Regions from separate parts of the Homo sapiens genome. Here all the other regions are reported to be linked to region 4. Evidence: microRNA targets listed by miRTarBase, many of them from high-throughput screens and not tested one by one. Region 4 holds a microRNA gene; each other region holds the end of a gene's coding sequence.
What was found. Region 4 holds the annotated microRNA hsa-miR-376a-3p (AUCAUAGAGGAAAAUCCACGU, at 823-843, shown strand). A microRNA usually pairs through its seed, bases 2 to 8, with sites in the 3' UTR of a target mRNA and lowers its output. Matches are read on the target gene's strand: a 7mer-m8 pairs with bases 2 to 8, a 7mer-A1 pairs with bases 2 to 7 and ends in A, and an 8mer does both.

Region 1 (3,000 bases), not on the chromosome of region 4:
TCTCCAAATATATTGTACAATATATAAAAAAAGAGCCTTTTATAAGGAAAAAAATGTCCAACATTTGTGTCACCATGATCAAACTTTTGTATTATATATTCAGATATAGCAATATTTCCTATTAATATTTACTGTTTAAATGATATTTAGGCACTGCAGAATAGCTCTCTTTTCAGACATAGAGCAAATCTAATAATCTATCACTTCAAATACTCTATATGCAAGTACTTTATATCAATCTAAAGATACAATCAAGAGGTAATGCTTTAAGGCTACATATGAAGGCTACCTTGGTTATTGAAAATGTGTATAAGCAACAAAAACACTTTTGCAAAATGTAGTAGAAATGAATCATTATTGCCATCTTAGAAAGAAAAGCTATTGCACACCAACTAGACATTCAAGATGGTATCCTAAAACTTATTGCTACTGTTCTGTTAGGACAGATTATTGCTCAAAACTGCCCATTTTAAAACATCAAGAAATTCTCTCATTTTTGTTATCTTTTCAGGCAAGGCAACATCACAAAAAAATTTTAAAGTTAAACTTTTAAAGTTAAAAGTGAAATTTATTACAATACAATAAATGCAAGTGTCATTATTAAAAATGCCGGTTAAAATTATAAAGTATCTAAATAATTTTTCTAATATAAATATTGGAAATGACAACTTTAACAATTCTATATGTACACAGGACACTGAAAACATAAAATCATGAACAAGGCCAAAAAATAACGTTGCACATTAACCCTTTAGTTATTACTTTCTATTTTCCAGTCCCAGCATCATACCTGCTAATTACTCAGATCACAAGCCTCAAGGATTAAGTGTTTTGAATGTATTTCAGTTTCATACTTTAACAATGCTTAAAGACTATTGGTTGTATTCTGATCAAATGGTTCTCCTTCCCATATTTCCCTTTCTCAATAGATCTTAGACAAAAAGGTGAGCAGGGAAAACTGTGATTACAGGATCCAACATGACAGGTATACCCAATGATTCATTTAAGGGTGGCATAAAGTTATATAGAAAAGACCTACAGGACGGAAGACAAGTACATCAACACGTAGTGAAATTAAGCAGTTCACCCACTGCGTGCTTACATGGCTCCTATATCTCTTCGGGAAGAAGCCAGAGCCGTAGAGAAGTCAGGGCAAACCAGAACTGTTGAGGAGTAGGGGTGGGGGGCAGAGGGAAGGAGCTGGGGAGAAGTGCCAGATCATAAAGGAAATGTAAAAGAGTTACCTATCTGTTCTCCCCCTCCTGCTAACGCAGGGGCTGGCTCGAGCCCAGCCTCCCTGCCCGCATCTCAGTGGAGCTCTTCCCCCAGCATTGTCTTTCAGATGAAAAGATACATCTGTTCCCCACTGAGATGTTTTTTTGGGGGAGAGAGTATGTTTTGTTTTTTATTTTGATTATATATTGACAAATTATTGTATATTTTTATAGGGTACAATACGGTTTTATGATTTTTGAATATAAGGTGGAATGATTACACTAATTAACATATGATCTCAAATATTTAACTTTTTTATGAGAACATTAGAAATTTACTCTCTTAGCAATATTGAAATATACATTCAATTATTCCTATATTTAGCATGCTGTGCAAGTGATCTTTAAAAAAAAATCACACTTATTCCTCCTAACTGAGGCTTTGTACCCTTTGACTGTCTCCCAATTCTGAGAACACTTTTCATAAATTTGAGGAACTGCCTAAATATTATAGGCTTGAACATCTGAACTTGTCCTCAGCATGAAAGCAGGTGAGACTTTTTTTTTTTTTTTAAACAAATGAGCAGGTAACACCCAGAGAGGTTAAGTGGTTTAGCCACTGGAAAGATAAGGAAGTTGGGTGTGATGTTTACTTCTCTATGATGATGCTTCTCAAACTTTCATGTGCATACAACTCCTTTGGATCTCATCAAAATGTCCTGGGTCCAGAGTGGGGCTTCAGATTCTGCATTTCTAATAAGGCTCTAGGAAATGTTGAGGCTCTTGGTCTGTGGGCCACACTTTTAATAGCATGGACTACAACACAAAGAGGGATCCACCCCGGCCTTCCTGGGTCATGAGAGGCCTGCTTCAGCGTTATCTGCCTCTCCAAGCACATCCCCAAGCAAAAGGTTTCGATGCACTGCATAAGGTGGCAGCTGCCTACAAGACTGCGTTAATATATTTTCTGAGAGCACCGTGACTACATGAACAGCCAAACAAGTAACATAATTTGAGTAACATAATCTAAATTTGACAGGTCTATTTGCTGAGAATAAAACTCATCTCCTACTTATGAAGTCTTTCTTAAAGTGAACATGATATATAAAGGTATTAAAAAACCCAGCATATTAAATTTCATAGTAAAATGCCGCATGTGCACATGTATACAGATAGTATGAGTTCTAAGAAATTCAATGCACTGTAATCAGAATAAAGTGCTACCACTGCTCCCAGCTAAAATCATCTCCTCTTCCAAATATAAGGAAAAACCCTTGAATTGTAAGGAAAATGACTGCATTGCCTGCCAACACAAGGCCGCAGGCTCCCCATTTGATCTGAAAGACAAGAAAAGAAGGATTAAATCCTTACTTCCTTCATATTGTACTCTTTGCAATCCCTATTATTTTCTGCATTAGAAACATCCAATGAAATGTTACACAAAGCTGCTAAAAGGCTTAATAATGTAACAGGAGACAATGAACTGTTCAGTAATGAGTCTAATTACTTCTGTGATGCTTGTTAATTAAGTCTGGTATCATCCTTAACATGTTCCCAATTAGACATATTTCTCTACTTGTTTTTAATTGACAATGATTGCCTTAAGTAAAACTCAAGTGGTAAGATTATAAATAGTGCAATTACAATATTGGGTACTGAAAGTTCTGCACACATCAACTTCTTTCATGGAAAATAAAAATTGTAGAGTTATAAATTTGTGTGTTTCTTTTCTAGGCAAGAAAAGACTTTAAATAATAGTCTTCATACAACTGAAAACTGCTTTCCA
Region 2 (3,134 bases), not on the chromosome of region 4:
CCTCCCAAAGTGCTGGGATTACAGGCATGAGCCACCACGCCCGGCTGCTGAGTGCTTTTAAATGTGTTACCTCATTTGATTCTTTCAACATTCAATATGAACTCCATTGTCCTTTTTTTGTTTTTGTTTTTTTTAAATAGAAGACAGGACTCGGAGAAGGGACTCAGAGAAGTTAAGTGATTTGCCCACAGTCATACAACTGAAAGAGCTAGAATTCAGGCCTGAGCTATCTGGCTCTGTTCAGGGTCATACATGTTCATGATTATTTGAGTCAGAGCCTGAGCTGGGCCTTTTAAGTCCCAGTTTTCTGCTCTCCACATGGCTGCATTCTGCGTTGTGAGGCTAACAATGCCATTTTGTTTCCCAGGACTGGACTGACTATGATGAAAAGGCCCAGGAGTCTGTGGGAATCTATGAGGTCACCCACCAGTTTGTGAAGTGCTGATCCCTCTTCCTTCCCAGTTGCCCTTAAGAACTGAGAAAGGACAAAGTACTCTAAGCAGCAGAGCCCACAGAGGCTCGTTCCTTTGACCCTTGTCTCCTGGTGGCTATACGAAACCTTCACAATCTGCATGCTGGACTTTATTACAGCTTCCCAAGCCCCATCAATAAAGCCCCTGTTCACGCTGCACTGGTGCATGAAGGTGAAGTAAGGAGGCAGCTACTCCCTCCACAAATAAGAATTCGTGCAGCAGCAGTTCACTCCTTAGGAAAATGAAGAGTATTTTTAAGGAGATGGTATCTCCCCAGTCAAGGGCAAGTTTACAGAGATGAAACCGCGATCCCACCATCACTCAATGAGCCAGAAGCCAATGGTGACGTACTGTTACCTGAACTTACTGAACTTGCTGTTGGAAAGATCTTTGTGAGGATTAGGAATTAGGTTAAAAGAAATTAAGAACCATCTTCAAGCAAAAATTAAACTTTATTTCTGCTTAAACAATAAATACACCTGAGTTAGTTTTCCAAACCTTTCCTCCTGATTAAATGCCCTTAAAACTTAAATCTCTTGTTATCTTCAGTTGTGATCTAGTCCCAAGTGGAAATTACGTTTAGCTTTAAAACCATGAATTTAAAGCTCAAGCCTGTAGCTGGCTGCCTAGGCAGCTTATGATTAGTTTCACAGAATAGCACCCACTGGCTACACAGGCCCCAGTTTTTTTTTCTTTTTTGTTTTTTTGAGACAGTCTCGCTCTGTCGCCCAGGCCGGAGTGCAGTGGTGTGATCTCAGCTCACTGCAACCTCCACCTCCTGGGTTCAAGCAATTCTGCTTCAACCTCCCAAGTAGCTGGGATTATAGGCACATGCCACCACACCCAGCTAATTTTTGTATTTTTAGTAGAGACAAGGTTTCACCATGTTGGCCAGGTTGGTCTCAAACTCCTGACCTCAAGTGATCCACCCGCCTCAGCCTCTCAAAATGCTGGGATTACAGGCATGAGCCACCATGCCCGGCCTCCCAGTTTTCATGATGAGGAAGTGATGGTAGCTTTTCATCTGCCCAGAAGTTAACTTTTGATGGATTTGCCTTCTAAGGCATCAAACATGTCTTCTAAGGCCTTCTCCACACATTGGAGAAACTCCCGGGCATTGCGGCCTGGGTAGGAAGAGACATTGCAGCCTATCCAGTTGTCATGAACAGCATACCCAACACCAAAGCCATCAGAGACCACAGGGGCAAAGCCCCCAAGGTTCACTGCTGGGCTGCTCAGTGTGCTCGTGGACAGGACATTGTGGTTTATCTGCCCGTATGCAGGGTCCAGGTAGAGCTCAGGCAAGATGATCCCTTTGGCTGCTGCCAGATGCCGCAGAGCAAACAAGTGTCGGTCAAAGCCCTGGCCTGTGAGAAACAAAATGGAAAACCAGAGTCTCAGGATGGAAAAGGACCTCAGGAAAACCTCCCAACTCACCACATGGTAGGAATACCCCTCACAGCATCCTTGAGAGTGGGGGAAGGCTCTACCTCTATGCACACCACCAACTGACTAACCTTCAGAGCAGCTCAAGCTAGATTATTTTAAATTATTTAGGAAATATATTATGTCATGTTACATTTAAAAATAGCTGTCAACAGCTGAGCTAAAAATGAGCCTAAAAGGAAAGCATAATTTTAAAGATGTGAAATCAGTTTAGTCAAAGAGTCAAGACAGTACAGGAAGACAGCTATGGACTCAAAAACTACAATAAAACTAAAAGTCTGATTCAAGTGTAAAAGAGAAGATTGAGTCAGTGGAACAAAATGGAAAGTCTGTTTGACCAGGGTTCGAATCTCAGTCTTACTACTAACTTGCTGTGTAACGGGGCCAGTGGCTTGGTTTTCTCCCTATAAAATGGAGGAAGAGAAGATTAGAATGTCTTGGAGGTCCCTTTCACTTCCAGCACTTCATAGCAACATGAAAGGACAACTATGACCCTCCAGGTCCTTTCCAGGTCTTGAATTTTATCAAAAAAAGGTAATGACGGATGACAATTGAGAAGAGCTTCTGAGATAACCTGTTTACAGAGAGCAGACACATTACAACTGAGGTGAAGCTAGTGGGGCCGTAAGTTTAGAAATCCTAAATTTTCAAAAGTGAGTCTGATAACCAATCAGTAATAGAAAAAGGTTGGGTGCAGTGGTGCATGCCTATAATCCTAGTGCTTTGGGAGGCCAAGGCAGGAGGATTGCTTGAGCCCAGGAGTTTGAGACCACCTTGGGCAATACAGTGGGACCTCATCTCTACAAAAAATTTTAAAAATTAGGCCCGGCATGGTGGCTTACGCCTATAATCCCAGCACTTTGGGAGGGTGAGGCGGGTAGATCATGAGGTCAGGAGTTTGAGACCAACCTGGCCAACATAGTGAAACCCCGTCTCTATTGAAAATATAAAAATTAGCTGGGCATGGTGGCATAAGCCTGTAGTCCCAACTACTCAGGAGGCTGAGGCAGGAGAATCGCTTGAACCCAGGAGGCAGAGGTTGCAGTGAGCTGAGATTGTGCCACTGCACTCCAGCCTGGGCAACAGAGCAAGAGTCCATCTCAAAAAAAAAAAAAAATTAAAATATCAGCTGGGCATGGTGGTGCATGCCTATAGTCCCAGCTATTTGGGAGGCTGAGGCAGGAGGATTGTTTGAGCCAAGGAAGTTGAGGTTGC
Region 3 (3,113 bases), not on the chromosome of region 4:
GAATTCACAGTGGAGAAAAACCTTATGTATGCAACAAATGTGGGAAATCTTTTAGGGGTAGCTCAGATCTTATTAAACACCATCGTATTCATACTGGAGAGAAACCCTATGAATGTAGTGAATGTGGGAAAGCCTTCAGCCAGAGGTCACACCTTGCTACACACCAGAAAATCCATACTGGAGAGAAACCCTATCAGTGCAGTGAATGTGGGAATGCCTTCAGGCGGCGTTCCCTCCTTATTCAACATCGGAGACTTCATAGTGGTGAGAAACCCTATGAATGTAAGGAATGTGGGAAACTCTTCATGTGGCACACGGCTTTCCTCAAACATCAGAGACTGCATGCTGGAGAGAAACTTGAAGAATGTGAGAAAACCTTCAGCAAGGATGAGGAGCTTAGAAAAGAGCAGAGAACTCACCAGGAAAAGAAAGTTTATTGGTGTAATCAGTGTAGTAGGACCTTCCAGGGCAGCTCAGATCTCATCAGACATCAGGTAACTCATACAAGAGAGAAACCATATGAATGTAAAGAATGTGGGAAAACTCAATCAGAGCTCAGACCTTCTGAGACATCATAGAATTCACAGTGGAGAAAAACCTTACGTATGCAATAAATGTGGGGAATCTTTTAGGAGCAGCTCAGATCTTATTAAACACCATCGTGTTCATACTGGAGAGAAACCTCATGAATGTAGTGAATGTGGGAAAGTCTTTAGCCAGAGGTCCCACCTTGTCACACACCAGAAAATCCACACTGGAGAGAAGCCCTATCAGTGCACTGAATGTGAAAAAGCCTTCAGGCGGCGTTCACTCCTTATTCAACGTCGGAGAATTCATAGTGGTGAGAAACCCTATGAATGTAAGGAATGTGGGAAACTCTTCATGTGGCACACAGCTTTCCTCAAACATCAGAGACTGCATGCTGGAGAGAAACTTGAAGAACGTGAGAAAACCTTCAGCAAGGATGAGGAGCTTAGGGGAGAGCAGAAAATTCACCAAGAAGAGAAAGCTTATTGGTGTAATCAGTGTGGTAGGGCTTTCCAGGGCAGCTCAGACCTCATCGGACATCAGGTAACTCATACAGGAGAGAAACCATATGAATGTAAAGAATGTGGGAAAACTTTCAATCAGAGCTCAGACCTTCTGAGACATCATAGAATTCACAGTGGAGAAAAACCTTATGTATGCAACAAATGTGGGAAATCTTTTAGGGGCAGCTCAGATCTTATTAGACACCATCGTGTTCATACTGGAGAGAAACCCTATGAATGCCCTGAATGTTGGAAGGCCTTCAGTCAGAACTCACACCTTGTCAGTCATCAAAGAATTCATACCAGAGAGAAACCCTTTGAATGTAGCAACTGTGGTAAGGCCTTCAGTGGGTGGACAGCTTTTCTTAAGCACCAGAAACTTCACATTGGAAAGGAATTTGAAGACTGTAAGAGTCTACAAACAGGACCTATTCTAATAGGTAGCAGAAACCTAATGAATGCAGTAAAACTAGGAAAAGTCTGATGGAGACCACATCTTATTGCACTACAAATGAGTTTTATTAGAAAAAAACCATGGGAAGGTGGGAAAGCAGAGAAAATACCTACTGGATTTTTCAAACGTAAGTATAATCAAGTGGAAAAGCCAAAAGCTCTTGGACATAATCACCTTTTTTTTTTCTGTCTCAGAACTGACACTAGAATATGGTCCCAACGATACAATTTTTTAAATTATTTATTTTTTAACATACAAAGAGATGAGGTCTCACTATGTTGCCCAGGCTGGACTTGAACTCTTGGGCTCAAGCACTCCTCCCTCCTCAGCCTCCCAAAGGGTTGGGATTACCGGCATGAGCCACTGCACCAGCCCCAGGGGTCTAATTACTTGAGAATGTTTTAAGGGATGTCTATCATTATTAAAATCATTATAAATCACTTTGGCAACAACCCCAAAACTAAATTATTCATGGAAAGAGCCATTTCAATCTTGACTTCCTAGTCGAGTGACAAGTTTAAATGTGGGAAAAAACCCTGTGAAAGTAATGAGTGTAGGCCAGGTGCGGTGGCTCGTACCTGTAATCCAGCACTTTGGGAAGCCAAGGTGGGCAGATCACGAGGTCACGAGTTGATCATGAGGAGTTACTATGCCCAGCCAACATACTAAAACCCCGTCTCTACTAAAAATAACAAAAATTAGCCAGGCATGGTGGGGCACGCCTGTAGTCCCAGGTACTTGCGAGGCTAGGGCAGGAGAATCACTTGAACCTGGGAGGTGGAGGTTGCGGTGAGCCAAGATCATGCCACTGCACTCCAGCCTGGGCAACAAGTGCGAAACTCCATCTCAAAAAAAAAAAAAAGTCTAACTCTTCTGCTTGTCTTTACAATGCTGTACAGTGAGAGCTAATGTTTATAAGGATAAACAGGATACTTACAGGGATTTGAAGGTAATTTAATTCAGTGGTTTCCAACTTTTTAATCACCAAGGCCTTCTTTTTACTCCCCTATGTCCTGTGTCTTAAAAGATTATGTTTACCAAACTGCATTTATTAAAGAATTATATTTTGCTACATAAAGGCATGTACAACACAAATCATGCTTCTGACTGGCACCATGTAGGCAGACCTAGGTACTAAAATTCCAGCCCAAAGCAAATAATTTACCATTTTCATTAGTCTTTTTATTCCTTTTGTGGGCAAACATATCGTCTATGTTAGGCTTTTTGAAATATTAACTATGACTTGTAAACTCCAGATTAAAAACTAACCAATTCATCTTTGATGGAGCTTGAATCAAACTAAGGGTATTGGACTTTTGAAAGATTGAAATTTTTGTTACAGTATGGAATGTTTTTAACTGAATGTTGAAATAAAAGTTATTTAAGAATTACTTAGTGACTGTTTAGTATGTGCCAGGGGCCGTAATTAGATGGGGCTGAAGAAAGATAGTCATTGTTGAATCTTCTTCAGGTAGACCAGGTCCTCCTTGAGGTTCTCAGGCTGCATCTCCAGGTTGGCTCCGGCCAGGGTCAGCTTGTCCAGCCCCTGGTGCAGCTCCAGAGACCCAGCCTCGCTTGGTGCAGAAGTCATTGGCAGCCAGGTGGGCATCATCCACCTGTAGCCAGCA
Region 4 (3,134 bases):
TTTCATGAATCATGTTTGCGTTTGTGCTCTCCAGGGCTGTTCCCACTTTTCCCATCTAAAAGGTGGATGTTCCTTCTATGCTTACAGGATTTATGGTGAATCATAGAGGAAAATCCGCATTTTCAGTATCTAAGGCTGCTTTTAAAACATTTCTGAACATTTCTGAGAGGAAGGTTAGCTCCCTCCCCCATGCGGAGAGTGATGGAAGGTGAATCCCAGAACCTAAGCTCTTGTTAGCAAGGTCTGTCCTGGGACATGCGTCCTCCGCAGGGCCCATGTCACTGCCGCTAGCCCGGGAGGCCCCTGCCGACTGCACCTATCCTGTGCTGTCTTTAATTTTGATAGATTGTGCTTAGGTTCATGCTTTCCAGGACTCAATCCTTCTTTGGTATTTAAAAGGTGGATATTCCTTCTATGTTTATGTTATTTATGGTTAAACATAGAGGAAATTCCACGTTTTCAGTATCAAATGCTGCTTGGAAACATTCCTGGACTGAAACCACCATCAGGGAAGAGACAATAAAGTCCCCCCCCCCACTCCAGGGTAAGTGGAAAGTCGGTGGACCTCAGAACATGTGCTGAATTCGTGCCATATGTCTGCGGACCACCCACCCGCCTTGAGGAGACCCCTCTCGCAAGCTGCCCGCTCGGCCAAGCGGCTGGGCTCCGTCGTCATTTTCTCCATGAGGCCGAATGCTCTCCTCTGTGCTATGTTACTTTTGTGTTTGATGGATTGTACTTAGGTTCGTGCTTTCCGGGATGAAACCTTCTTTGGTATTTAAAAGGTAGATTTTCCTTCTATGGTTACGTGTTTGATGGTTAATCATAGAGGAAAATCCACGTTTTCAGTATCAAATGCTGCCTTGGGATCATGGCTGGACTGAAGCCACCATCAGGGACGTGAGGTGGGGCTGAGCCCTCCAGGGTAAGTGGAAAGATGGTGGGCCGCAGAACATGTGCTGAGTTCGTGCCATATGTCTGCTGACCATCACCTTTAGAAGCCCCCTTTCGCTGAGGAGCCAGCTTGGTGCACAGGCTGTGGTGTGTTGTCACAGCTATGCTACGGGACTGAAAACGGTTGCTTTACTGTCTTGCTTCCATTTTCCATGAACTGTGTTCAGATTTGTCCTTTCCAGAGCCCAGTCCTTCTTTGGTATTTAAAACGTGGATATTCCTTCTATGTTTACGTGATTCCTGGTTAATCATAGAGGAAAATCCATGTTTTCAGTATCAAATGCTGCTTTGGAAATGTTTCTGGAAGAGACCGTAGGGCCTGAGTAGGTGCAAAGATGGTAGGCCGCACGTCGTATCTGAATGAACGGGGTATGCCCGAGAACCATCTCGAGACGCCAACTTGGTGAAGATTAAATTGTGGGTCTCGTGGTGCCAGTTCTTCCCTGGAAGCTCGTCTGCCTCATGTGACTTTCTTTTCTGATGACTCAAGCACAGGTGCACGCTTTCCTGGATGGAATCCTTCTTTGGTATTTAAAAGGTAGATTCTCCTTCTATGAGTACATTATTTATGATTAATCATAGAGGAAAATCCACGTTTTCAGTATCAAATGCTGCTTTGAAAACCTCGGAGGACGTGAAGTCGCCATGGAAGAGGAGATGTTATCTGTACCCCTCCTGGGTACAGGACGGACAGACACAGAATTGTACTTTGTATGAAATACGCCGTCAGCTTCTCTGCTGTTTGCTCACTGCCCTTGGTGCACACATAATGTGTTGTTACAAGGCTGTGTTCTCAGTATTGCCTCATTGACCTTGAATGAAGTTTGTTCTCTGTATGTTTACCATGATTGCAATGCATTTTCTGGAATGAACCTCTTTTACTGTGACTAGTTGTACCTTAGAGAATACCTGAGTGGGCTGTCAATTTCAGGAAGGGGCACTGCTTCAGGGGCTATGGAAGGAATAGATGTGTGATTCACCCACGGGCCTGCACTTCACACCTCGGTGTGCTGCTCTCACCATGCAGATCCCATCTGTGTCTCTAAGGCTTGCTCCTGGAGCTGGTGGCAACTTAGTCACAGAGGAAATGGCCTTCCTGTCACTGCCATCATTTGCTACTTGAAGAGAGGTAATCCTTCACGCATTTGCTTTACTTGCAATGATTATACAAGGGCAGACTCTCTCTGGGGAGCAAATCCTGCCTGGGAAGCCTTCTTGGGAACAAGGCTGACTCCAGCAACCTGTTAGATGGCCAGGATAGCCCTGGGGTGTGGATGGTTGACCACAGGGCATGTGCCTCTGTCTTGCTGTTTGTGACCTGGTTCTCTGACCCTCCTCATCTCATGCTTCCTTCCAAGAACTTTCTGGAAGAGATGCTGGCTTTGGAGATGATATAGGGTTTTCTCTTCAGACCACCTGTTCTGCCTAGCAAAAAGGGCCTACCTTGGCCGGGCACGGTGGCTCACGCTTGTAACCCCAGCCCTTTGGGAGGCTGAGACGGTGGATGGCTTAAGCCCAGGAGTTCGAAACTAGCGTGGGCAACTTGGCGAAACCCCATCTCTGCAAAAAATACAAAAATTAGCTGGGTGTCATGGTGTGCGCCTGTGGTCCCAGTACTTAGGAGGTTGAGGCTGGAGGATCACTTGAGCCCGGGAGTTGGGAGGTTGTAGTGAGCCAAGATTGTGCCACTGCACTTCAGCCTGGCTGACAGAGACCCCTGTCTCAACACAATAGGTTAAAAAAAAAAGAAAAGAACAAAGGGCCTCCCTTGATGGGCCCTACTTATCACAAAGCATCCATGGGCTGCTACTCCGGCAGGTCTGCCCAGCATGATGCCAGCCTCTGAGAAGAGGTCTCGTGGTCAGTGCATCTCCCAGATACATGAAAGAATGACCGTCAGCAAAGTCAATGTCTAATGTAGATGTGGGTCATCTGGTCTACCCACTCTCCATACCTAGCCCATCCTTGGAGTGACTTTTGGACCTCACTGTCCACTTGAGGGAAGGCCAGTCCACAGGAAGGAGGCCCCAGAGCACCCAGTGTGGCTACAGGACTTGCTGCTGGGACCTCTAAGCCCCACTGCTCTCTTAGTCCATTGGTGTCCTTTAGGGATTCTTGCCAATGGAAAGACCCTTGGATTCCTGGTGTTAGCATGTGTTTATTCAGAGAGAGTTGGCCCA

Region 1: the mRNA of LEPROT is a reported target of hsa-miR-376a-3p. Seed matches in the 3' UTR shown: 7mer-A1 at 2,351-2,357.
Region 2: miRTarBase lists CZIB as a target of hsa-miR-376a-3p. The part of its 3' UTR that is shown has no 7-base or 8-base seed match.
Region 3: the mRNA of ZNF594 is a reported target of hsa-miR-376a-3p. Seed matches in the 3' UTR shown: 7mer-A1 at 852-858 and 7mer-A1 at 1,263-1,269.

Annotation. Positions count from the first base shown.
Region 1 is chr1:65,431,354-65,434,353 of GRCh38, reverse strand. LEPROT (leptin receptor overlapping transcript) reads right to left here. Exons shown (of 4, transcript NM_017526.5): 4 at 1-2,551. The coding sequence ends at 2,435. All of the region lies in intron 2 of LEPR (leptin receptor), which reads right to left. Among named protein-coding and RNA genes, the nearest start is that of LEPROT, 12 kb to the right of the region's middle.
Region 2 is chr1:53,211,970-53,215,103 of GRCh38, reverse strand. It overlaps CZIB (CXXC motif containing zinc binding protein), which reads left to right. Exons shown (of 8, transcript NM_017887.3): 8 at 368-1,005. The coding sequence ends at 445. CPT2 (carnitine palmitoyltransferase 2) reads right to left here. Exons shown (of 5, transcript NM_000098.3): 5 at 907-1,840. The coding sequence ends at 1,509. Among named protein-coding and RNA genes, the nearest start is that of CZIB-DT, 6.8 kb to the left of the region's middle.
Region 3 is chr17:5,179,298-5,182,410 of GRCh38, reverse strand. ZNF594 (zinc finger protein 594) reads left to right here. Exons shown (of 2, transcript NM_032530.2): 2 at 1-2,876. The coding sequence ends at 578. Among named protein-coding and RNA genes, the nearest start is that of ZNF594, 11 kb to the left of the region's middle.
Region 4 is chr14:101,039,296-101,042,429 of GRCh38, forward strand. MIR376A2 (microRNA 376a-2) reads left to right here and starts at 774; the gene lies at 774-853. It overlaps MIR376C (microRNA 376c), which reads left to right and starts at 395; the gene lies at 395-460. MIR654 (microRNA 654) reads left to right here and starts at 924; the gene lies at 924-1,004. MIR376B (microRNA 376b) reads left to right here and starts at 1,141; the gene lies at 1,141-1,240. It also overlaps MIR376A1 and MIR300.